3 linked regions of the Homo sapiens genome follow. The protein of the gene in region 1 interacts with the protein of each later gene in a biochemical or structural test. Each region holds a gene or a part of one and is shown in the gene's direction. Other genes may lie near its edges. The genes, in order: NUP214, NXF2 and DDX19B.

The links.
Region 2: the proteins of NUP214 (region 1) and NXF2 form a complex in vitro, tested with the Homo sapiens proteins (one study listed by BioGRID).
Region 3: the proteins of NUP214 (region 1) and DDX19B are reported together in a solved structure, tested with the Homo sapiens proteins (2 studies listed by IntAct, with this or other methods).

The regions. Positions count from the first base shown.
Region 1 is NC_000009.12:131,191,577-131,195,331, forward strand, and holds part of NUP214 (nuclear pore complex protein Nup214), read left to right. Parts: intron 1-631; coding exon 632-716; intron 717-3,656; coding exon 3,657-3,718; intron 3,719-3,755. UniProt on the Homo sapiens protein: Part of the nuclear pore complex. Has a critical role in nucleocytoplasmic transport.
Region 2 is NC_000023.11:102,306,156-102,309,910, forward strand, and holds part of NXF2 (nuclear RNA export factor 2), read left to right. Parts: intron 1-870; 5' UTR 871-923; coding exon 924-966; intron 967-3,755. UniProt on the Homo sapiens protein: Involved in the export of mRNA from the nucleus to the cytoplasm.
Region 3 is NC_000016.10:70,302,032-70,305,786, forward strand, and holds part of DDX19B (ATP-dependent RNA helicase DDX19B), read left to right. Parts: intron 1-3,755. UniProt on the Homo sapiens protein: ATP-dependent RNA helicase involved in mRNA export from the nucleus.

The DNA.
Region 1 (3,755 bases):
CACTTTTAACCTTTTTGCATGTCTCCATATTATAGCAATCATGTTTTACATCTGTAATTTTAAAAAAAGAACACGATTATTTGTTAAATGCCAACAAAATCTGTGGAAAATGCAGAAATGTATATAGAAGTAAACAGCCTTAAAGTCACTACTCAGAAATATTTAGCTTATGAACCTATTTCTCTTTTGGATTTTTGTCCTTCAGCATAGATTAATTTCAAATAATTATAAAGCTACATTATATATAGTTTTATTTACTTTTGTGGGGAGGGGGCTTAGCCTCACATTATAAGCATTTTCCCATACCATTGAAATATATAAGAGTGTACTTTTAAAACTGTACATTTAAACTATACTAGAATTATTTTGATATATTTTCTGTAAAGGAGAAGATGGCACACCTTAGACTGGAATTAACATTGACAGAGCCACGGAGCAATTTCAGAGACCTCAAACACAAGTGAGGCAACGTGCTCACTCCCCATGGCCACTGACGTGTCACAGAAGGCACATGTGGTGCTAAGCAGCACCTCACAGGCTGAGCTACAGGGAATTATACACTGGAACAGTGTTTCTGTCTTTTTGTAATATTCTTTTTTTTTTTTTTTTTTTTTTTTTTCCATAATTTCAGGGACAGCCAAGATAGAAACAGCTGTGACTTCAACCCCATCTGCTTCTGGGCAGTTCAGCAAGCCTTTCTCATTTTCTCCATCAGGGTCAGTAATGAACTTAAGTTTTATGGCAAATTACTAGCAATTAGCTTCCCCAAATCTTACAATTATAGATATATTTATTTACTTATTAAATGTGTATGAACCCAGAGTTCTTACCGTGGCAGTAATACATGTGATGATAGTGGCAATAGTTTAATGTTCTCATGTAAATCGATTTTCCCTTTGCAATTCAAGTTAATACTTGTTTGTTACATATTTGTGTATCTGTTTTGTTTTTTAGCCTAAGCCTCATTTTCTTTGAGTAATGAGTCTGCTAAATTCTGTAGTTCATCTAGTTTGTCACACTGAGATGTTTCCATTCTGACACCATTTTGGGGGCTAGATGTGACATTCAAATTGACTTTGCTGGACAAACATGGTGGCTCATGCCTATAATCCTAGTGCTTTGGGAGGCCAAGGTGGGAGGGATTGCTTGAGGCCAGGAGTTGGAGACTGACCTGGGCAACATAGTGAGACCTCATCTCTACAAAAAATTGAAAAATTAACCAGGTACGTTGGTTCACTTCTATAGTCCCAGCCACTTGGGAGGCTGAGGTGGGAGGATCCCTTGAGCCCGGGAGTTCGAGGTTACAGTGAGCTATGATCACACCATTGTACTCCAGCCTGGGCAACAGAGTGAAACCCCGTCTCCAAAAAAAAAAAAAAAAAAAAAAAAAAAGGCTTACTGCATCGAGAGTACAGTATACTAAACTTAGAGAATGTAATGAAAGATAATAGGCATTTGAAATTTGAGGTTTTATATAGATGTGGAGGAATCTGTTTCCGTTTCTTTAAAAAATAATAATAATAATGATGGCTGTACTTGTAAAGTTGAGTTGTTTTTAAAAATGAAAGAATCTTCTATACCTTATCTCAAGATGAGCCTTTGTTAAGGTGCCTGTTCTCTGTGCCCTGAGCGCTCATGTTGAAACCTGTGTGAGCTGCTGAAGCATTGGGTTAGACTCTGTGGAACTGAGATCAAAATGTGTCAAAAGGATTTTTTGCCATTGAAGCATTGTGCATTCAGTTCCTTAGAAAAGCCTCTTAAGTTCTTCAGTTTATGCTTTTGTAACTAGGAGCATATTAACCAGTCTCTTTTTCCTGATTTTAATATATTTTTTGAGTGTCCTTCAGCCTAAGGAGAAAAGAGGGTATTAGAATATTATTTGAGGGGGAAAGTAATACATATATTTTTTCTTTATTATAAATCATTATGTTTTATGCTTCCCAAAGGTAATTTGCAGCAAATTTTAAAGAGTAGGTCAATGCCAAGAATTATTGCATCCTTTACAGATGGCTAATAATCAGTCTTCTGTGAAATGATATTCTTCTTCCTTTTCTTTTTTTTTTTTTTTTTTTTTTTTTTTTTTTTTGGATTTTCAGGCAGAGTATCACTCCGTCACCCTGGTTGGAGCGCAGTGGTGAGATCTCAGCTCACTGCAATCTTCACCTCCCGGGTTCAAGTGATTCTCTTGCCCTAGCCTCCCAAGTAGCTGGGATCACAGGTGTGCACCACCACACCCAGCTAATTTTTGTATTTTAGTAGAGATGGGGTTTTTTCATGTTGCCCAGGCTGGTCTTGAACTCCTGGCCTCAAGTGATCCACCCGCCTTAGCCTCCCAAAGTGCTGGGATTGTAGGCACGAGCCACTGCACCTGGCCCTCTTCCCATTTTTAAAATAACCCAGAAAAGGTGGGGTCATTGAATCAATGGCTTGACACTATTAGATAAAATTTTTTCACTAAGAAAGGTTGTGTTTTTTTTTTTATTTTTAATATGATGGGCAAAGGTGTCTAAGTTATTACATTATTTAGTATATTTGATGTGCTTGGTTCGTTATATTTTAAAGCTAGTTTGAAATCTGCAATTTGAACTTTGCGTGTGTGTGTGTGTGAGATAGAGCAAGATTCTGTCTCAAAAAAAAAAAAAGGTGCAGTGGTACAGTCATGGCTCACTACAACCTCCACCCCCAGGACTGAAGTGATCCTCCTGCCTTAGCCCCCCGAATAACTGGGACTACAGGTGCGCGCCACCACACCTGGCTGATTTTTGTTTTTTAATTTTTCGGTTTTGGTTTTTGGGGGTTTTTGTTTTTGTTTGTTTGGTTTTTGGGTTTTTGTTTTTGTTTTGTAGAAACAGGGTTCCACCATGTTGCCTAGGCTGGTCTCAAACTCCTGGGCTCAAAGGATTAACCTGCCTCAGCCTCTCAAAATGCTGGGATGTGAGCCACCATGCCTGGCCTGAGTTTTTATCACAGTGAATAATCTGTTCTGATTCACACTCGCGTGGGATTTTCTTCCTTAGCTATGGTGTCTTCACTTACAGTGTAAAGAAAACGTACAAAAGGAGAGAGGAGATGGTGAAAGGAGTCACAAAGTTTTTGAACTAGATTTTCCTAGCCGTAAAACTCAGTTCTGTCAAAATGACTGAGTTAGGGCTTCTATTTCATTGTATCCATTGTTTTCCCTAGCAGTGTGGGGCTCTCTGACATGCTTGTTGGTCTTGGAGGGGTTCTGAGAGGCTCTCCCTAGTCTTAAGTGCTTCTGTCTTACCAGACCTTCCTTCTGTCCCCTCACTTAACAGACCATCTGCTCCGGCCACCATTCCCACATGCACATTTGTCATGTGTCTCTACTGCTGCAGCTTTGCTCATCTTGCAAGAAGTCCCCACTCAAACTTCTGCTACAGAAAGCCCAGCCATCCCCCAATGGGCTCTCAACTGCTATCCCTGTCGTATCTCACACACAAACTGCTTCTCTGCTTAGAGATCATAGAGTGGCCTTACTGCTTCTGAGATAGGTGCTTTGACTCTGTTGTCATTTATCTTCTAGATTGTAAATTCCTGAGGGCGGTTTGTATGAATGAATGATAAAATGGAATATTAAGAGGGCAATATTGTGCCTTGGTTTGTTCCTTTTTAATTTCTCTTTTTCCACTTGTTAGGACTGGCTTTAATTTTGGGATAATCACACCAACACCGTCTTCTAATTTCACTGCTGCACAAGGTACAGACTCTGTGTTGAGTAGCATTACTCATGTGTT
Region 2 (3,755 bases), on another chromosome or scaffold:
TGGGGCGGCAGGGATTCATGAACTCGTAAGTCGTTTCTCAGGGGCAGGGCTGTGGAAGCCTGATGGGATTCCCCCCCCTTCCCGCCCCCACACTAAAAGCCCTACCCTTGCCTGTCACTCTGCCCGATTCACCGTCTGTGCCAGGTGATTCTGTCCTCTGCCCCTCCTCAGACCATGTTGTTATTAAGGACACTCGAGACTGCCTAGATCCCAGTTTGTATAGACGATTCCAGACCCAATCTTAATTTCTGTCTCTTATTTGATTATGTAAAGATTCTCTTTGTTTCCATGATTTATTTTTCTACTAAACCTTCTAAACATGGGCTCAGGGGGGTGGGCGAAAGGGAGAGAGGGGAATCGGGAATTTTTTTAAAAAGAGAATTTGATATTTCAATAAAAGTGTCCAAGTCGTCATGATGTGAAGATTCAGAATTTACTTGTTATACTTTATTTGAACTCCATTGGCTTTAAAAAGTACATTTGGGAGTGGGTGACATTTTTTTTGTGTGTGTGTGCGCTTAGGATCTCTCAGTAGCTTATAGTAGTATAGCTTCACACTCTTTTGTTTCTGATTCTCCCCCCATCAACCCCTGATTTTCTAATGATTGCTTCTTAGATTCCTTTCTGAAAACTCTCTCCTTTTCTTCCTGTGGAAAAAAGTATAGTGAATGGATTTAAGGTACAATCATGGGTGATAACATTTGGTACATCATGAAAGCGGTATTGGGTGAATGAAGTTGAGCAAATAGCAAGATTGTGCTTAAACTTACGGGGTTTCAAATATTGCTTGTCAGATGGTTAGAGAATATTGTCACTTGTGATATTTGATATTACATGTAGGTTGAATAATCTATTTTTCTCTCATTTCAGCATTTCCAAGTTCGTTCTGTGAGACTGTAGTGTCAGGACAAAGCAACAACAAAATGTGCTCTACTCTAAAGAAGTGTGGGACATACAGAACTGAAGGTAAACGAATACTGTAGGATTTTTTTAGATGATATGCTAATAAACAACACGAGTCTCAAAGGGGGGGCTACTTTCCCCAACTTGTATGGGAATGGAACATTTTTTTCCACAGAGCATTTGAGGTACCAGTGTTCTTCAGAAAATATTTGGGGAAACCCTGTTCAGACTACATCTTCTAACACTTTAAAACCTTGTGCCTTTGTTTACTCAGAACAATGGAATGTGGGTTTATAATAGTTGTAATCTAGTCTGCTCATTAAGACATTGATTGTTGCTCTTTAATTCATTTTATCTCATGTCATCAGTCAGTCTCTCCTGCTTGAATCTTTGTACTTTTTTACTCTTCAGAGATACCGCCAAGCATGCATCTGATACCATGGTGGTGGCAGACAATATGTGCATAAATGCAAGTCATTAGGAAGCCTTACCTGTGGCAGCAAATAAAGTGCCCCCACTCTTGAAAACAAGATACAACTTACCTGTCAGGACAAGCAGATGCAGTACCGCTCATTTTACACAATAAAAAACCACACTTCTTCAGAACCATTTTATTATTACTTAATAATTACAGCTGCCATAGTTTGAGCCCCTGTCATATGTCAAGCACTGTGATAACCTCGGCTGTCATGCAAGTTACTGCATTTAACCCTCAGGAAAGTCCTGAGAGGGTGTTATCTTAATTGACAGATGAGATATATGAGTCAGGAGAGGCTGAGTGTAACGCTGTGCTTATAGGCAACCCCCAAACCTCAGTGACTTATTTCTCACTCCTGCTGCATGTTTATGCCAGGTGCATATCCTTCACGGGATGGTGGATGTTGGGTTCTGAGCCATTCTTATTGGAATGACTCAGAGACCCAAACTAATGGAGCAGCCACCATCTAGAAAGGGGTTACTCACTGCGTCAGAGTGGGAGAGAGCCGTAGAGGGTCTCAAACCAACAACCAAAGGTTCTGACCCAGAAATAACCCGTGTCACTCGTCACTCACAACCCATTGGCCAGAGCTAGTCACATGCACGGCCCTGCCCCAAGGAAGGCAGTCGGGTCGGGCAGTCCTACCAGGTGCCTGGTACAGGGGAGAATGTAAACACTTGGTAAATGGCAGCACTGACTACTGCATGAAGGAATCAAAGCTGGGAGGGATTAAGTACTTGCCTAACATCACATCGGCCGTAAGTGACAGAATCAGGATTTGAATCCACCCAGGCGTGATTTCAAAGTCGATGTCCTTTCTGCTTCTTTCTACGCTGCCTGCTCTTCTCTTAAAGGAAGCTTATAGTAAAAATTCTTTTACATCAATGATGCAATGCCCTCTTCCTTAATCATCTGATAGTTTAATTGAATAGACACGATGGCACTGGTTAAAAAGACCAGCACTGATAAGCCAGAGGTCTTTTCCAAATGAGGGAATGTATTGGATATTTGAATATCCATTGTATTCAATTATAAAAATAAAACCAGGTGGTAGATGAAAGGACTTTTCATTGATCATTTACTTAATGTGGAATAATCCCCATGTCTTACCGCTATGTTGAGGAAAAATGATAAAAAAATAGAGCCTACCTTGATGAAAGTGAAAACACCATGTGAGAGAGTTGAACAAAATTGCTAGATGTCAGTGTTTCAGAAGCGCAGGATAATGATAAAATCTCTGGCCACACGGGCAGAGAAAATTAGCGAGGTGGTGCGGGTCAGCCACTTTTGGAATGAAGATAGTGTCACACTTACAGTGACAGAAAAGATTGAAAAAGATCACATTATGAAAAGGATGTGAAAATTTGAAAATTTAGATTAAATAGATGAATTCCAGGGGAAAAATATATATAACTTTCCAAACTGAAGGAATAGAAAACCTTGGTTTATTCAATGTATTCTTGACAAGGAATACATGCAAAGGCAAAATTACTAGCCAACCCGAATTAGTTACATAAACGCAAATAATATAAATCAATTAATAGCAAACTAAACCCAACAATGGGTAAAGCAGATAATACAGCATGACGAGGTTGTGTTTAATCCCAAGCATGCAAGCTGAGTTTAACATTTTAAGAGATCCATAATGTAATCTAACACATTAGCTGAATAAAGGGAGGAGGACAGGACAAATACCACAAAAGATCCAGTTAAAAAAAAAAGTATGCAATAAATTAACCAACCGGGATTGAACAACAACAATACCAATAATTCTCAGCAGATCGGTAATATAGAAAGCTATCTCTTTAAACTGACAATGGGTATCAAAACAATAGACCCCATCAGACACCACCCTTAATAGTAAAACATTAGAAGTATTCTCCTTACAATCAGAAAAGGGATAAAGATGACTGGTATGACGAATTCTGTTCAATGTCGTACTGAGTCTAGTGCAGTAAGCCATATGTCATACTAGGCAGTGCGGTAAGCTGTGATACATGCATGCCTACATACATAAATTAATACGTGTATAAAAGTGAAAAAGCTGTCAACGTGACTATCTTCATATGAAACTCAAGAGAAGCTACAGAAAATTAAAAATAATAATGGAGATTAACAAGTTTGTTGGCTATAAGACGAACATACACAAACCATTGTAACAAAGAAAATACCATCATTATTGTAAATATACCATTTACAACAGAAAACATGTCTTGTGAAATATACGATGAATCTGCTTACTTGGCAACTATTCCAGCACTCTTAAACATTCTTATATGCTTTCCTGTACTGTAGAGACTAGAAAGTTGGAACATGAAAGGAAACACACATGCACATGACCCCACGCATGTGCGCACACACTCTCTTTCTCTCT
Region 3 (3,755 bases), on another chromosome or scaffold:
TGCCTCAGCCTCCCGAGTAGCTGGGATTACAGGCATGTGCCACCATGCCTGGCTACTTTTTGTATTTTTAGTAGAGGTGGGGTTTCACCATGTTGGCCAGGCTGGTCTTGAACTCCTGACCTCAAGTGATCCGCATGCCTCAGCCTCCCAAAGTCCTAGAATTACAGGCGTGAGCCACCACACCTGGCCAGCCCTTTAATTTTTTTAAAAGTCAGGTTTATGGAGGTATAATTTACACAGAGTAAAATTAAACTTTGTTAGTGTACAGTTCTATGAATTTTGACAAAAGCATACAGTTGTGTAACTACCACCACAGGCAACACATAAACCCTCTCTACAAAGAACTACAACTTCTTGTAGTTCACTCCCTCTCCTCACCCTTCTCTGGCAGCTGCTGATATGTTTTCTGTCATTATAGTTTTGCCTTTTCCAACATGTCATAAAATGGAATCATATATATAATATATAACCTTTTGAAAAGTCTGGCTTCTTCCACTTAGTATTATGCATTTAGAATTCAACCAAGTTGCATGTATCAGTAGTTCATTCCTTTTTATTGCTGAGTAGAATTCCACTGTGGATATATATACACAGTTTGCTTATTCTTCTATTGATGGACACTTGAGTAATTTTCAGTCTGAGACAATATGAAGAAAGCTACTCTATACATTAAGGTACAGATTTTTGTATGGACATATGTTTGCATTTCTCTTGGGTAAAGTCAATATCAAAGAGTAGGATTTACTGTGTTATGTCGTATGTGTTTAACTTTGTAAGTTATGTGCCAAACTATTTTCCAAAGTGTATCATTCTGCTTTTCCAACAGCAATGGATGAGAGCTTCAACTGCCCCACACCCTTCCCTGCACAGTATTGTCAGTTTCCTTCATTCTAATAGGTACATGCTGGTGTCTCATTGTGGTTTTAACTTATATATCTCCCTAATGACTAATGATGTTGACAATCTTTTCATGTGCTTATTTGCCATGTATGTAACTTCTTTGAAGTGGCTTTTCAAACCTTTTGCCCATTTTTAAAGTAGGATTGTTTTTGTTTTTAGTTGGGAAGTTTCTTTATATATTCTGGATAGAAGTTCTGTTTTTTGTTTTTGTTTTTGTTTTTTTTGAGACAGGGTCTCACTCTGTCACCCAGACTAGAGTCAGGCTAGAGTGCAGTGGCATGATCTTGGCTCACTGAAACCTCCACCTCCTGGGCTCAAGGGATTCTCCCACCCTGTCTCCAGAGTAGCTGGGACCACAGGCATGCGCCACCACATCTGGCTAATGTATGTATTTTTTGTAGAGACAGGGTTTTGCCATGTTGCCCAGGCTGGTCTTGGAACACCTGGGTTCAAGCAATCCGCCCACCTGGGCCTCCCAGAGTGCTGAGATGGATTACAGGCATGATAAGTCCTTTATCGGATATGTTTTGCATATATTCTCTCAAACTACAACTTGTCTTTTTTCAACAGTACTTTTCAAATAATAGACATTTTCAACTTTGATTAACCTAATTTATCAATTTTTGTTTGTTTGTTTGTTTTTGAGACGGAGGCTTGCTCTGTCGCCTGGGCTGGAGTGCAGTGGTGCCATCTCGGCTCACTGCAAGCTCCACCTCTCAGGCTCACGCCATTCTCCTGCCTCAGCCTCCCGAGTAGCTGGGACTACAGGCGCCCACCACCACGCCAGGCTAATTTTTTTTTGTATTTTTAGTAGAGATGGGGTTTCACCATGTTAGCCAGGATGGTCTCGACCTCCCGATCTTGGGATCCGCCCACCTCGGCCTCCCAAAGTGCTGGGATTACAGGCGTGAGCCACCGCGCCCGGCCTAATTTATCAATTTTTAGATGATTAGTTCTTTTTGTGTTCCAAGATATACACCTTATCCAAGGCCACAAAGATTTTCTCCTGTGTTCTCTAGAAGTCTTATAGTTTTAAATTTTACATTTATGTCTGTAATCCATTTTCCATTTTGAGTTAAATTTTTTCTAATAAGGGGTATGCATTGAGGTTCATCTTTTTTTTTTTGAGGCGGAGTCTGGCTCTGTCTCCCAGGCTGGAGTGCAGTGGCGCAATCTCAGCTCACTGCAACCCCTCGCCTCCGGGGTTCAAGCAATTCTCCTGCCTCAGCTTCCCTAGTAGCTGGGATTACAGGCACCCACCACTATGCCCAGCTAATTTTTGTATTTTTAGTAGAGACAGGGTTTCACCATATTGGCCAGGCTGGTCTCAAACTGCTGACCTCATGATCTGCCCGCCTCGGCCTCCCAAAGTGCTTGATTACAGGCGTGAGCCACCGTGCCTGGCCGAGGTTCATCTGTTCATCTTTTTCACAGAGATGTCTTTTTTTTTTTTTTTTTGAGACAAAGTCTTGCTCTTGTCCCCCAGGTTGGAGTGCAGTGGCGTGATCTCAGCTCACTGCAACCTCCACCTCCCAGGTTCAAGCGATTCTCCTGCCTTAGTCCCCCGAGTAGCTGGGATTACAGGCGCCTGCCACCAAGCCTGGCTACTTTTGGTATTTTTAGTAGAGACAGGGTTTCACCATGTTGGCCAGGCTGGTCTCAAACCCCTGACCTCAGGTGATCCATCCGCCTTGGCCTCCCAAAGTGCTGGGATTACAGGCGTGAACCACCACTCCTGGCCAGAGCTGTCTTAATTGTTCCAGCACCATTCGTTTAAAAGTCCTTTGGTTTTCTTTTTTCTTCTGTTTTTCATCTTTGTCTCTTTTTTTTTTCTTTCTTTCTTTCTATATTTCCTGGGAGATTTTCTCAAGTACTGTCTGGTATATTTCATTTTCACTTCTACTTTCTTATTTTTAATTTCAGGAACTTTTTTCTTCTTCCTTTACTGTTCCTTTTTTACAGACAATACCCTGTACGGCTTTCATGGTCATAATATCCTCATCATTTGGAGGATATTTTTCTTCTTCTCTCTGCTCAGTCTCTGTTTCATGTGAGGCGTGTTTTATCCATATATTTCAGTGTCTACTTTTTTGTGATGACTGTTTCTCAGATGTCTGTAATCCTTGCTTGGCCACTCATATTTAAGAGTGAGTGACTAAAAAGTTGAGTGGAAGCTGTAAACACATGAGTGGGGCTTGTCTATTCTGACCTTAACTATATATCTTTAGTGGTCTATGTCAGCATCCTGAGAACTTTCCTCCCGGTCTGGCCAGATTTTGCAGAGAGGGATCCTCTAAACTCCTGCCTAGATGGTGGAGGTCTGACTCAGTGTTCTGGAATCTAGGTGGAGGAAAGGGTGAGGGAGGTCTCAGGACCCAGAATACCTGCTTCCACTTAATGCTTCTGTTTTCATTATGGCATCCCCTCCCTTAACTGTGGTCCTTATCCATTTGAGCATTTCTCATGCCTAACCTGGCAGGCATTGTTAACTGAGTAAATGAACTGTGTAGTTTGTTATTTGTTGCAAAGAAACTTTTGATCATTCACTCTCAATATGTAAATATCTATTTAGAAATTGCATACTTTACTGTTTTATTAAATATATTATGTACATTGTAAAGCAAATAAAAAAGTAATAAAGGCTGAGATAAAAATGAAATAATGCTTTCCTGTGCTTGTGTGTGCTGGCTTCATATTTTTATTAGCCAATATCTCAAGGCACAATATACACTTAGAAAAAAAACACATCATTAGTCAACGTAGAGATAAATATGTGTTTCAAGTAGTTCTGAGAGGTTTTTTGTTTTTTTAATTATTATTTTTTAAATTTTTATGTATTTATTTTTTGAGACAGA